Regions from separate parts of the Homo sapiens genome. Here regions 2 and 3 are each reported to be linked to region 1. Evidence: microRNA targets listed by miRTarBase, many of them from high-throughput screens and not tested one by one. Region 1 holds a microRNA gene; each other region holds the end of a gene's coding sequence.

Region 1 (4,148 bases):
CTTGGGGATTGCTAAGAACAAAATTCAAAGTTGCTTGTTTTTTGTTTTTTTTTTTCTTAAATCCACACTTCTTTGGGGGTTAGCGGGGGTGGGGAGGGAACAGCAACTGCTTAATGAAGTTTCTCACACAGAGGCAAAAAGAGAAAAGCCAAAATATATTCAGTGTATCCAGCAGTTCCATGCTGAATTTTTTTTTTCCTTATTGGTTGAGGGGGGTGTGTAGGAGGGTGGTGGGAAGGATCTGAAAAGAAGCTGTGATTCTTTGCTGAATTAATGATGACTTCTCACTGCAAAATGCTGATTTATAATCTCTTCACCATACTAGACTGTTTCCAGACTCAGAGGGGGGTTAAAGTTTGTTAAATGTATTCATAATTACATGCACAGTTTCAGACGGCTGAATATAAGTAATGCTTGTGCTGTTGCGAATGCTCACCATTAAAGCAGAAATTGTTTCACATTTAGCACTAAATTCTGTCTGATTTTGCACACTTAACAATTCAGTAATTTTAACATTCGGCTTCGTCGCCTCCATTATAGCTCAGTATCTTGGAGAAACAGTCAGTGTTCCGGCCTCGTTAATTCATGTAAAACACCCTATTTGTAGAAGTATCATTAAAGGCTAATTTGATGAGATATCCTTATTTAGCAAAGCAAATAGGATTTGACAGTCAGCTCCGGGTGGCGATTTAGCAAAGCACAAACACAATTCACAACGTGACAATTTCCCATCCACGCGCCTCGCTGGAATTGTGGACTCCTGAAAATTGTGCTGTTTCATCGTGTCCCATACTAAAGAGAAAGAACTCTGGAAGTAAAGAACTGTTTTTGCCAAGGCAGCACAAATGTCATCTGTGTGTACATGTGCCATGTCTTTCAAATCCTAAATCTTGTATCAAGAACGCTGTGTTCAAAGGTTTTTTCCAGGTACAGCTCACTTTTCTATTCCCTGCTATGTAGACTTAATTTAAATCTAGACTTGCAAATAACTTAGGATGTGTGAAAGTCTATATAGGTTACAACTATATAGGGTGTGTGTGTGTGTGTGTGTACACACAACTGAAGGTTAATGTTCTGCGACGGGGATTTATACACACTACCCTTGCTTTAGAGACTTCCCCTGAACGTATTATCCAGCCTTCTATAAAACGCCTGGCTGGGTGCAGTGGCTCATGCCTGTAATCCCAGCACTTTGGGAGGCTGAGGTGGGCGGATCACGAGGTCAGGAGATCGAGACCATCCTGGCTAACACGGTGAAACCCCGTCTCTACTAAAAATACAAAAAAATTAGCCGGGCGTGGTGGCGGGCGCCTGTAATCCCAGCTACTCGGGAGGCTGAGGCAGGAGAATCGCCTGAACCCGGGAAGCAGAGGTTGCAGTGAGCCAAGATCGCGCCACTGCACTCCAGCCTGGTCAGAGCCTGGACAGAGCGAGATTCTGTCCCCAAAAAACAAACAAACAAACAAACAAAACAAAACAGAACAAAAAGAACGCCTTCAACAGCAAAGAGTTGCAAAGAAATGTTGCAATTCCAGGTGGAAGCAAACAGCTGGTTTCTCCTAATTTAGCAAACGTAAAGACAAATCTAATGTCGTTACAATTCATCATTTCAGGAGCGCCTTATTTGGGGGCTTCAAACACTTTGCCACAATTGACATCCTACTAATTCCTTTCCAATCCAATACTGTCCCTTAAACCACTGTGGGGGTGGTCAGGGGGAATGTACTTTCTCCTCCTTGTATCGTTTTTCGGCCTCCCAAGGAGAGAAGCCCTTGGAAAACACAGTAGGTTCGGCAAACTGAGAACACACACTTATAAGAATACCGCCCTCGAAGGGACCTTTTAGTTTTATGGAAAGTAGCAAACCTCCCCCTCTTTCCCCGCCCCCCCGCCAGCCGGGTTTTGGACGCGCTCCCTGGGGGTGGTAGCTCTCTGCCCTCACCCTCCCGAGACTGCCGGGGCCTGAGTCCCTCGCTGTCCAGAATGACCCCAAAAGCGGGACTTTGAGGGCCAGTTGGATAAAACATAAACTCATCTCGCCCTCAAAACCCCGATTCTGAGACCACAGCCTCCAAAAGCCTCTTTTCCCAAGAAGTGAGTCCCCATTCACGGCTGACAGCACCGGGGCAGGCCGCCTTTGAGGCAAGAGTTTGGAGAACCGGGATCACTGAAGGAATCGTTACTGGGTGTTCCCTCAGGGCGGCGGTTCATCTCACCAAAATGCCAGGGGGTCGCTGTGGGAGGAGGGGACATTTGCCACACCATGGCTGAGGGCAAGAGGATCGCTTGATCCCGGGGTGTCTCTTCCCTCCCGGAGCAATCACCAATCTCGCCCAGCAAACAGGCCTAAAAGCTTCCCGGACAACACGAGGGGTGCCCCAAACGTCCCTTAGCAGCGGATAAATCGGGTGTCCGAGGTGCCTCGTACAGTTCCCCCCACCCCATCTCCAGCTAAATAAAGTTTGGTTATTTGTGTCCTTAATCGTCTCTCATTAAAGTCAAATTTGCTGCGCGCCCAAGTTGGGGGAAATGATTTCCATTTTAATAGCTTAATTAGCCTCTAGGTTCTGGAAAGGCCACTCCCCCACGCACCTTTTCTCCTCATTTTAACCCCCCTCCCTTTTTCACAACTTCTCCTAAAAATAAATTATAAATATGGATGTGTCCTCAGAGGACATAAGCGGCGCATTCCAACGCTCCGCTTGGTGGGGATTGGAAGCAAAGAGAAACCAGAAACGCCACTCCCCCCACCCCCAAATCAAAATGCCTTTTTCTTTTTTTTTCTAACTTCTTTTTCCTAACTTGGTGTTGTCTCGGGCACAGACACCCCGCTCCGCACCCCGGAACCTAGTTTTTTTGCCCCCGTCCTGCAGAAGCTAAAGCCAACGCGCCAGGGCTGCCTGCTTCTCGGGGGGAGGGAGCTGACAACTTTAGGGGGCGGCGGTAACTCTCTGGGGACGGTGGTTCCCGGCTAGTCCGGGATCCCCGGGGCCCGGCCCCCGCAGGCGCCGCCGCCCATGCCAGCGGGGCTCGGGCGCACGTGGAGCGGCGGGCGCGGCCGGCCTGCTCCGCGCGCGGCATTGAGATCGGGGTCACGCAGCGAGTCAGTTTCCCGAGCGGGCTTTCCGGGGTGGGGGCGGGGACGCGGACGCTCCACCGCCTCGTCAATTTCCAAGCCCAGGCACTAGGGAGGCTGGGGGCGGCCTCGCCCCCTTCCTACCTCCCGGCTTCACACGCCCCTCTGGGGAGCGGGGGAGGGGTCCGAGGGGGAGCCGGGGTGGCGGCAGCGGCGGCAATCGCAGCCCAGACAAGCGTCTCGCGCCGAGTCCCGAGAGAACCGCGCGCTCCCCCGCCGCCACCTCCCCTCTCCCGTTCCCATCCACCCCGCAGACAGCCGCCCCACACCCCTTCGGCCCTGGGGGCTTGGGCACCCACCTGCCGCGATCCCTGCCTTGGCTGGCGGAAGGTGCCAGGCGGGAAGAAGGGGAGCACTCACCGCCGCTGCCGCCTCCGGGGGTGCACGGGCCCCCCCACCCAGGGCTGCGCCTTCCCGGGCTCCGGGCAGGCGTGCGCCGGGCGGGGGGCGCCCCGCGGGCCCTGCAGCCTCCGCCTCGATTGGAGCCCAGCCTTAAATCCTCCACCGTGGAGAAGAAGGGTACTTCCAGAAAAAAAATCCGCCCCTCCCCAGACGAGATCCAAGTGATGGGCGGGGAGCGTAGAAAATCCTTTTCTGCAGAGAGCGCGCAGCCGACGGGGCTGCACCCGGCCTCCACGGTCCGCTGCCGCCACAAAGCCGCGCCCCCGCCCCCCCCAACCCCCCAGCGCCCTATGGCCGGCCCGGGGCGGGGGCTGGGCCGGCCCGGGGTTGGCCGCGCTGGGGAGGCGGCGGCGGCAGCGGCCCAGGCGGCGGGGCGGCTCCTCCCCGGCCAGGCAGAGAGGGCGAGAGCCTGGAAGCCTAGCGCGCCCGCCCGGGTGGGGGTGGGGGTGGGGGTGGGGGTGGGGGTGGGGGCGGGGGCCGGGGTGGGGGGGCGCCTTCCTAGAAACGCTCGCCAAATATAGTCAGCGGATAGGGGCATTCCTAGAAATGCGGCGGCGACGTCAGCCTCGACCCTGGGGGCGGGGGGCAGAGCCCGGGGTGCTTCAAACAG
Region 2 (4,000 bases), not on the chromosome of region 1:
GTTCTTAGGCTCAACGGCATCGACCTTCCATAGCCAGCTCCTATGGGGCAACGCAGGTTGTTCTTAGGTTCTTATTTTGCTATAATAGCATAATCCTTTACTTCTACCCTGCACTTTGTGATTTACAAAGCACTTTTGCATCCATCACCTCCTCTCATCCTCACAACAGAGGGTGACCCCCACCCAAGATTCAGAAAGAATGAAATTGAAACTTGGAGAGGTGAAGCAACTTGTGCCAGGTGGCACCACTGGTAAGGGGCAAAGCCAGGACTCAAACAGGTCCTCACACCCTCAACCAAACAGGGCACAGGGAAAGAGTCCTTCCTGCAGACCCCAAATTCCTGCATCTGAGCTGGGCTGGCAAGGGGAACTGCCAGCCAGCAAGGCTGGGGGTGGGTTCCTTCTCATCCATCTTCGCAGTGAGCCTGGCCTCCAATGCTGGGCACAGACAGTGTGGTATTGTCTCATGGGTGGGAGGGTATTGTCTTTTCCTCCGAAAGAAAAATAATCAAACTCAGATCATCCAGAGCTCATTAAAAGCCTCTGCAGACATTGTGGCCCCAGCAATTAACTCAAGAACAATTACTCGCCTTTCACCCCAGGGTGAGGAAGGGCTGGACCCCAGCCAGATCCCCTTCTGCACCTGACTCTCCTCCAGCAGCCCCTCGAGGTGGCTTTCTCTATACTCTCAGGCCCAGGCCAGGGGCGGCAGCTGCCCCCCTCACTGCCCCACGCACAAATCCCTGGTTTCAGTCCAAACCGCTACTGTGAGCTCCAGATCTGGGTGGGGCCCGGAGCCTCCTCATTAGCACCAGGTGGGATGGCCTTGCGAAGATAAAGCTCTGTCTGGCCCCAGCCCAGGCTGTAGCCCCGGGCCCTGCCCCAGGCAGCCTGCCCAGGATGCTGTGCCAGTTTCTGACCTTTGCCCACTGCAGCCAGATGGGGCCATCTGTGGAGCTGGCCTTTTCTCCTTAGAATGAGGCAGTGCAGCCCAGTGGAAAGAGACTCAGCCTCTCTGAGCCTGGTTCCTGATTTAAACTTAGGCCATTAACACAGACTCCCCTCAGGGCCATAGTGAGCATTTGAGGGCACAAGGAGAATGAAGTCTCCAACAACCTTAGAACCCTCCCACACCTCTCCTGTTCCCCAGGGAAATGCCAGGGAGAGGGGGTGTGTCCTGGAGCCCAGAGACTTACCTTTAAACCCCTCTTTTCCCATTTACCAGCTGTGCGGCTTTGGGTAATGCCGCCTCCTCTCTCTGAGCCTTAGTCTACCAATCAGGAAAATGGAAATAACTCCAGCTCAGCCTGACTCTCAGTTGGAGCAAGATGACTCACAGGAAATGCTCAACAGACTGAAGTGGCCACGATGACCAGCAGGATGTAAAGGCACTCCCCTCAACTTCCCCACTCCCCTCTCCCTCCTATCCCAGGTCTCCAGGCTGAGACAGAAAAGTGTCCCCAGTCCAGCCCCACCCTGCACTGTGCACACACAAAGGCAGGCTTCATTCCTGACACTCAGGCCTGAGACCTGACAGTCACCTGCCCCACCTGTGTGGGCCCAGACCCCGCCCCGCAGCCACATTCCAGGGGCCCCTGAGGCAGAGGGAAGGTTTCAGCTGTGACAAGGGAGGCTTTCATGGGCAGGGACAAGCGCCTCTGGGCAGTCCCAGCTGGGGGTGCAGCCAGGCCTCTCCCTCCAGCTCCAAGGCTTCCTGAGAAGTTAAGTTGGGGGTGGTGGTTTGTGGGTGCTGGAGGCCAGAACAGGACAGCTAGGGAGGGGGCAGAAGGGGGTCCCAGTCCAGGCTACAGCAGCGGGGCTCTGGGGTTACATGTTCATAACCAACCTTGAAACAGCTCCTCCTTCGGGATTGCCATGGCCGTGATGGGGTCTCCAGCCTCCTTAGCAGGGTGCTGAGTACATTTGGCAGCATGCGGGCGTGGAACTAGTGTCCCTCACTTGCCCCCATCACTCATAGGGTTGGGCCTGCAGCCCTCACCTCTCCACCAGGAAGAAGTGGGACTTCTTTTGGGGCCTCTTCCTTACCTTGAATTGGCCTCAGTTCTTGGCAGCTGAGATGTAAACCACAGGAGCAGGGCCATACCTACCCAAGGGCAGAGTTGTACCAGGAAGCTGGGACTTCGTTCTTTTGCTGGCCCAGGGCAGGCCCCAGGCAAGCCAGGGTTGGGGTCTCTGTGGGAGGTCTGGGTCACTGCTGGGTCCCATTCTGGGCTCTGGGCCCAGGTATGGGCTGGTGGGCGTTAAAGGGCTTATGCAGGGCTGCCCCAAAAATGGGTGAATGTGTTAGTGCATGCACACACACAACACACACTGACAGGTACAGCCTCCCCAGCCTTGCTCCAAGCGGGATGCCTGGCCCCAAACCCCCAGTTTCAGTGAGGTGGAGAAATGTGTCGGGAGGAACTGCCCCTAGGGATCCCCGGCCTGAGCCTTCATAGGGCACAAGACTGGAATGTCAGCAAGACCGGCACAAGTGGCGTCAACTCCAGGAGACCACCTGGCAGGGGCTGGCACCATGGGCTAAGAATCAGGCAACTTAGGTTCTAGTCCTGGCTCTACCATGTAGTTGCTGTGTGGCCTTGGACAAGTTACTGAACCTCTCTGAGCCTATTTCCTGATCTATAACATGCAGCTCATACTACCTTTTAGGGCTGTTTTTAATTCAATGGCACATAGTAGGTGTTCAATAAACATTAATTTCACACAGATACCTCAACGCCCTGGGGAGTAGAGTAGAAAGAAAACTAAATCTAGAAGCAAAAACAATTTCAAATCCCACCTTTGCCATGCATTAGAGCAGTTACATATAGAAAAAAACACTTCACCTCTCTGAGCCTTAGTTTACTTTTGTAAAATGGAAGCAATGCTTATTTCATGAGGTTATTTTAAGGAACGGGTTAAATAAATGAAGACTTCTGTAAACAGGAATTACCATTACAGGCAAAGTATGTGAGTACCCTCCCCTCCCTTTCCTGGGACAGAGTGAACTTTGGTTCAAATAAAACCTAAACAGGGCCAAGGCAGGACCCATCTCTCCATGGGCTCAAATAACAAACCGAACGACCTATTCTCTCCATGGGCTGAAATAATAAACCAAACGTCCTTCCTCCCTTGGACCATAAATTTTTATTGGCAGGTCAGGAGAAGAGCCGGGGGTAAGGGTCCCTTCCTTCCCATCCCTCTACCCAGAAGACACCCTCCAAAGGACAGCAGAAGCCCCAGAGCCTGCTGCCTCAGAGGACCTTGGAGGCAGACAAATTGTTGTAGTGATCTTCCTGTCCCTCGAGCAGGCTGCGGTAGGTGGCAATCTCCTGCTCCAGCCGCGACTTGATGTCCATGAGCCGCTGGTACTCCTGATTCTGCCGCTCACTATCAGCTCGCACATCGCCCAGCTGGGCTTCAATACCGCTGATCAGCGCCTGGATATGCGCCAGCTGGGCTCCAAAGCGCGCCTCCGTTTCTGCCAGTGTGTCTTCCAAGGCAGCTTTCTGAGGATAGGGAGAGGGGGTTGTGACTCAGCAGAGCCTGGTTCCCGGAGAGGGCATGGGCACAGCCACCGGCCAGGCTGCCCTAGGCTGCAAGGGTATAAGTGTGAATTGCACAGGGAAGCGGCGGCGGTGGGGGGACACATACCATGCTCAGCTGTGACTGCAGCTCAATCTCAAGACCCTGAAGGGTGCGCCGCAGGTCAGTAACCTCGGACCTGCTCATCTGGAGCTGCTCCGTGTGGCCAGCGACCTCCCGGTTCAATTCTTCAGTCTGCAGAGAGAGGAAGAAGAGGGAATAAGCATTGAGTCAGACCTTCGCGTAGGGAACACAAAGCCCTCCCCTTCCTAACCCCCAAAGGGTGCCTGCTTCCCTCTACCTACCCGGCTGGTGAACCAGGCTTCAGCATCCTTCCGGTTCTGCTCGGCCATGACCTCATATTGGCTTCGCATGTCACTCAGGATCTTGGCGAGATCGGTGCCCGGAGCGGAAT
Region 3 (4,000 bases), not on the chromosome of region 1:
GAGCTCCCAGAGGTCAGCCGCCGAGAACTGGACCTGCTGATCGCAGAGGAAGAAGAAGCTATCTTGTTAGAAAGTAGGTGTCTCCGGCAGCGTAGGGCCCGCCTGGAGCTGGATAGTCAGACCCCTGGCGTGGGCATTCTGGGACTGGGCAATGCTCCCATTTCTCTTTTTCTGTCCTCTGAACTCTGATTCTCTCTCCACAGTCCCGCGGCTCCCACCTCCAGCTCCTGCAGAGTAAGGGCAAGAACTCCTAGACCAGGTAGGGTGTCAGTGCTGGGAAGGGTCTCCTCATTTCTCTTGCCCATTTCCCCTCAGGGTGGAAGGAATAGGAGAGGCACTGGGTCCTGAGGAGCTGAGGCTGACAGGCTGGGAACCTGGGGCCCTACTCATGGGTGAGTGCCCACCATGCCCCAGGGGCTTTTCTGGGAGTACCTGGATACTGCTGCAGACAAGGGCTTTATATCCCAACTTGCTAAAGGGAGGACCCTGCAGTTTCTTGCCCTGGCATCTGCAAGGGGTAAGGGGCTTATGGGACAGAGCCCCTTGGGTGTTGTTGCAGAGGTGACCCCCCCGGAGGAGCTGCGTCTGCCAGCCCCACCCAGCCCAGAGGTGAGTAGCCTCCCTTCTAATCCTCCTCCTCCTCCTCTTTGCCCTCCCCCACAAGGACTGCCTCCCCAAGCCCAGGGCCACTGCTAGCTTACAGGGGTCCTTAATGCAGATGATAAAAGATGCCCCTTTCTACGCCCCATCGTATCTGGCCTACGCTTCCCAGATGGGTACCCTTATGCAAGGTATGAGCTGCTCAAGTGCATGGAGACCCCGCACAAGCCCTCTCCAGGTTCCTCTAGGGGCGGGTGTGGGGTCCTGTTAGCAGTCCACCAGAATGACAGGAAAAGGAGTAATGGGCAGCCTTGCCCCTACCTGCCCTCCCCACTCAACAGAGGAGGCCCCCAGTCCCCCCACCTCCTCGCCGCCGCCGTCGTCGCCGGTTACTGTTCTGGGACAAGGAGACTCAGATCTCCCCGGAGAAATTCCAGGAACAACTGCAAACCAGAGCCCACTGCTGGGAATGTGTGAGTGCAGCCCAGGCTTTGCCGGGGAAGGGAGGGAGGCAGGGATGACCAGGGGCACATGCAGGCTGAGCCTTCCAAACTCCTCAGGTGGGTGGGGGGAGGATTGGGAACTTGATGAAAAATCTCCTCCATTCTCCAGAAAATGCAGGCGATGTGGGTTTGCACATATACAACTCTTCATGCTCCTTTAGTGACCCACCTGTCATACCCATGGGCACCAGGTTAAAAAGTCCTTCTTTTAGCAATGAGCAGGGCAGGCAGGGTCATGAGCGCAAAAGCTGGGGAAGTCCAGAAGCCCCAGAACAGTGCATTGCAAAGAGGCAAAGGGGCCCTGAGGAGTGGCTGCTTTATAATGGGGCTTCTGACCTTCCCCCACTACACAGCCTATGGTGCAGCCGCCCGAGAGGACCATCAGAGGCCCTGCGGAGTTGTTCAGAACCCCAACTCTCTGTAAGAATGGTGGGGGTTGGGCACGAAGTATCCTCAAAACCAATTCCTCATTCCTGGTGCTCCTCACGCCTCAAACCCCGTGCCTACTACCCTCTTGTCCACAGCTGGCTGGCTACCCCCTGAACTACTGGGTCTCTGGACCCATTGTGCCCAGCCACCCCCAAAAGCCCTCAGGCGAGAGCTGCCTGAGGAGGCAGCCGCTGAGGAGGAAAGGAGAAAGATTGAAGTTCCAAGTGAGATTGAGGTAACTGCACCACCTGTTTACTGCATCGCCCCAGTGCCAGGGTCTGCCTGACCAGCTGGCTGCCCTCTCCTGCTATGAGAGCCAACAGCACAGGCTCACTGGCCTTGTGCCTTCTGAGGCCCAAGTCCCAGATGCTTGGGGTCTTAGTTCTACTTCTCCCATCCCCAGGTCCCGAGGGAGGCCCTGGAGCCCAGTGTTCCCCTTATGGTGTCTTTAGGTAAGCACCTAGAGAAGAGGCGCAGTGGGACCACACCCTAACCACTGTCCCAGGAAACTAGTATCCCAACTGCTGAAGCTGTTTTATGAGTGAAGGCGTGTGTGTGTGACATAAGGAAGCACGGACTGGTCCTCCTCAGCTCTCCCACCTATGTGCTTTTAACAAGTCACCGCACGGCTCTGCCATCTACTTACACCAGGTGGCCACAAGGCCCTAACTGCCACCCAAGCAGACACCCACTAGCGCCTTTCCTCCCCCAACAGAGATCTCCCTAGAGGCAGCTGAAGAGGAGAAGTCCCGCATCAGCCTCATCCCACCAGAAGAACGGTGGTAAGCGGCCAGGCTCCGTGGGAGCCAGGGCCCACAGCCCTTGGCCAGGTGGTGGAAACAGCTGCTGGGATGGGTATGCCCCTTGTCACTGTCACAGCTGCCACCTTCCCTACTCTCTCATGTCCTCCTAGGGCCTGGCCTGAGGTGGAGGCGCCAGAAGCTCCTGCATTGCCCGTGGTGCCTGAACTCCCTGAGGTGCCCATGGAGATGCCTTTGGTGCTGCCCCCAGAGCTCGAGCTGCTCTCACTGGAAGCAGTGCACAGGTACCAGGGAGGTGGCACCTTGATGGGGTGGACCCGGGCTGAAGCCTCTGCTAATGGTTCTTGATCCCTATAGGGCAGTGGCACTGGAGCTGCAGGCTAACAGGGAGCCCGACTTCAGCAGCCTGGTGTCACCTCTCAGCCCCCGCAGGATGGCTGCCCGGGTCTTCTACCTGCTCCTGGGTGAGTGTATGCATGTGTGTGTGTGTATGTGGGGCAGGGACACAGAGACCAGAGGCCCGTACAGGGACTCCCCCGACCTGCCCTCTCCTCGCCTCTTGACCAGTGCTCTCAGCGCAACAGATTCTTCACGTGAAACAAGAAAAGCCATATGGTCGCCTCCTGATCCAGCCGGGGCCCAGATTCCACTGAGGTTAGAGTCCATTTACAAAGCTGCCAGGAAACCGGCCACTTCTAGTAAACCACGTCGTGCCTCACTGGGTCCTGCTTACCTCATTTCTGAATGTGCATTTCCAGCCTTCTTGCTCTCAGAGCTATTGTTCAAGCAGAAAACAAGCTGCTTTTATTACAGTATGATGTCATGACTCATTTGTAACAGATCCAGCCTCAGGGACAGCCCTGTAAGGCAGCAAGTGGGGCTGGCTCCAAATGGGTATGAGTCTCAGAATCTTTGGTAAGGCAGAACTGAACTGGGCTGAGAGGTGGTCTTAAGGCCTGGGCAGGCTCTATTCTCTCTGGACTGGCTGCAGCCTGCAGTCTAGGAGAGGCCCAGTACAGCCTGGAGCTCCTGAGCCTTGTCAACAGGCAGTGAGCCCAGAGCTGCTTGAAAGCTGTCGGTGTGCTGTTTGGCCAGGAACGTCAGGAGCAGCAACAGTGCGGCCTTGGTGTCTGGGTGGAGAGGGAGGGAGAAAGGTCGGGGCTCCTAAAGCCTCGCTGCCCCAGGCTCTCTGAGCCCTGCCACTCCCAGCCTCCCGCAAGCCCCTGCCTATGACTCCTACCCTCACCTGGTGGGATCTTGTTGTCAGCCAGAATGAGGCTGCAGATACGCAGAAGCTCGGGAGCCACATCTATAACCTGTGAGGAAAGAGTGGCTGACTCAGGGCAGCAGCCCCAGACCCCAGGTCTAGGAGGGTGGTCAGGACCAAGGAGTGGCAGAATCTCTTATCAGGGGGGTGGTTGCACCTGGTACTGATTCACAGGCATCCAAGACAACTATGAACATGAGAAGAACCAATGAAACTTGGTGCTAATGATTTTTTTTGGAGGGAATGGGGGATGTGGGACAAGATGATTAAAGTCATAGCCTCAAGACCTAAAGAAACCCAGACACTCAGGAGCTTCACCTACACAACAGTCTCTAAAGGTATAAGACAAGGGTGACACAAACACTCTGACATGACTCCAAACCTAGCTACTTGGTACAGGCAAAATCTCTTCAGAGAGCAGAGCTGATCTGATTGAAATG

The links. The annotated mature microRNA hsa-miR-193b-3p reads AACUGGCCCUCAAAGUCCCGCU and lies in region 1 at 1,995-2,016, opposite strand. An mRNA with a match to its seed (bases 2 to 7 or 8) in the 3' UTR can be bound and repressed. Matches are read on the target gene's strand: a 7mer-m8 pairs with bases 2 to 8, a 7mer-A1 pairs with bases 2 to 7 and ends in A, and an 8mer does both.
Region 2: miRTarBase lists KRT19 as a target of hsa-miR-193b-3p. The part of its 3' UTR that is shown has no 7-base or 8-base seed match.
Region 3: the mRNA of IPO4 is a reported target of hsa-miR-193b-3p. The part of its 3' UTR that is shown has no 7-base or 8-base seed match.

Annotation. Positions count from the first base shown.
Region 1 is chr16:14,301,885-14,306,032 of GRCh38, reverse strand. MIR193B (microRNA 193b) reads right to left here and starts at 2,066; the gene lies at 1,984-2,066. All of the region lies in intron 1 of MIR193BHG (MIR193b-365a host gene), which reads right to left. RefSeq lists silencers at 1,926-1,975, 2,929-3,168, 3,074-3,234, 3,519-4,008.
Region 2 is chr17:41,520,489-41,524,488 of GRCh38, forward strand. KRT19 (keratin 19) reads right to left here. Exons shown (of 6, transcript NM_002276.5): 4 at 3,891-4,000; 5 at 3,655-3,780; 6 at 3,129-3,509. The coding sequence ends at 3,255. Among named protein-coding and RNA genes, the nearest start is that of KRT15, 3.6 kb to the left of the region's middle. RefSeq lists an enhancer at 855-2,054.
Region 3 is chr14:24,177,150-24,181,149 of GRCh38, forward strand. It overlaps IPO4 (importin 4), which reads right to left. Exons shown (of 30, transcript NM_024658.4): 29 at 3,540-3,609; 30 at 3,070-3,423. The coding sequence ends at 3,293. It overlaps REC8 (REC8 meiotic recombination protein), which reads left to right. Exons shown (of 19, transcript NM_001048205.2): 8 at 1-73; 9 at 204-234; 10 at 316-392; 11 at 560-609; 12 at 942-1,073; 13 at 1,457-1,523; 14 at 1,628-1,767; 15 at 1,936-1,984; 16 at 2,248-2,314; 17 at 2,446-2,577; 18 at 2,651-2,757; 19 at 2,861-3,105. The coding sequence ends at 2,946. Among named protein-coding and RNA genes, the nearest start is that of REC8, 7.1 kb to the left of the region's middle.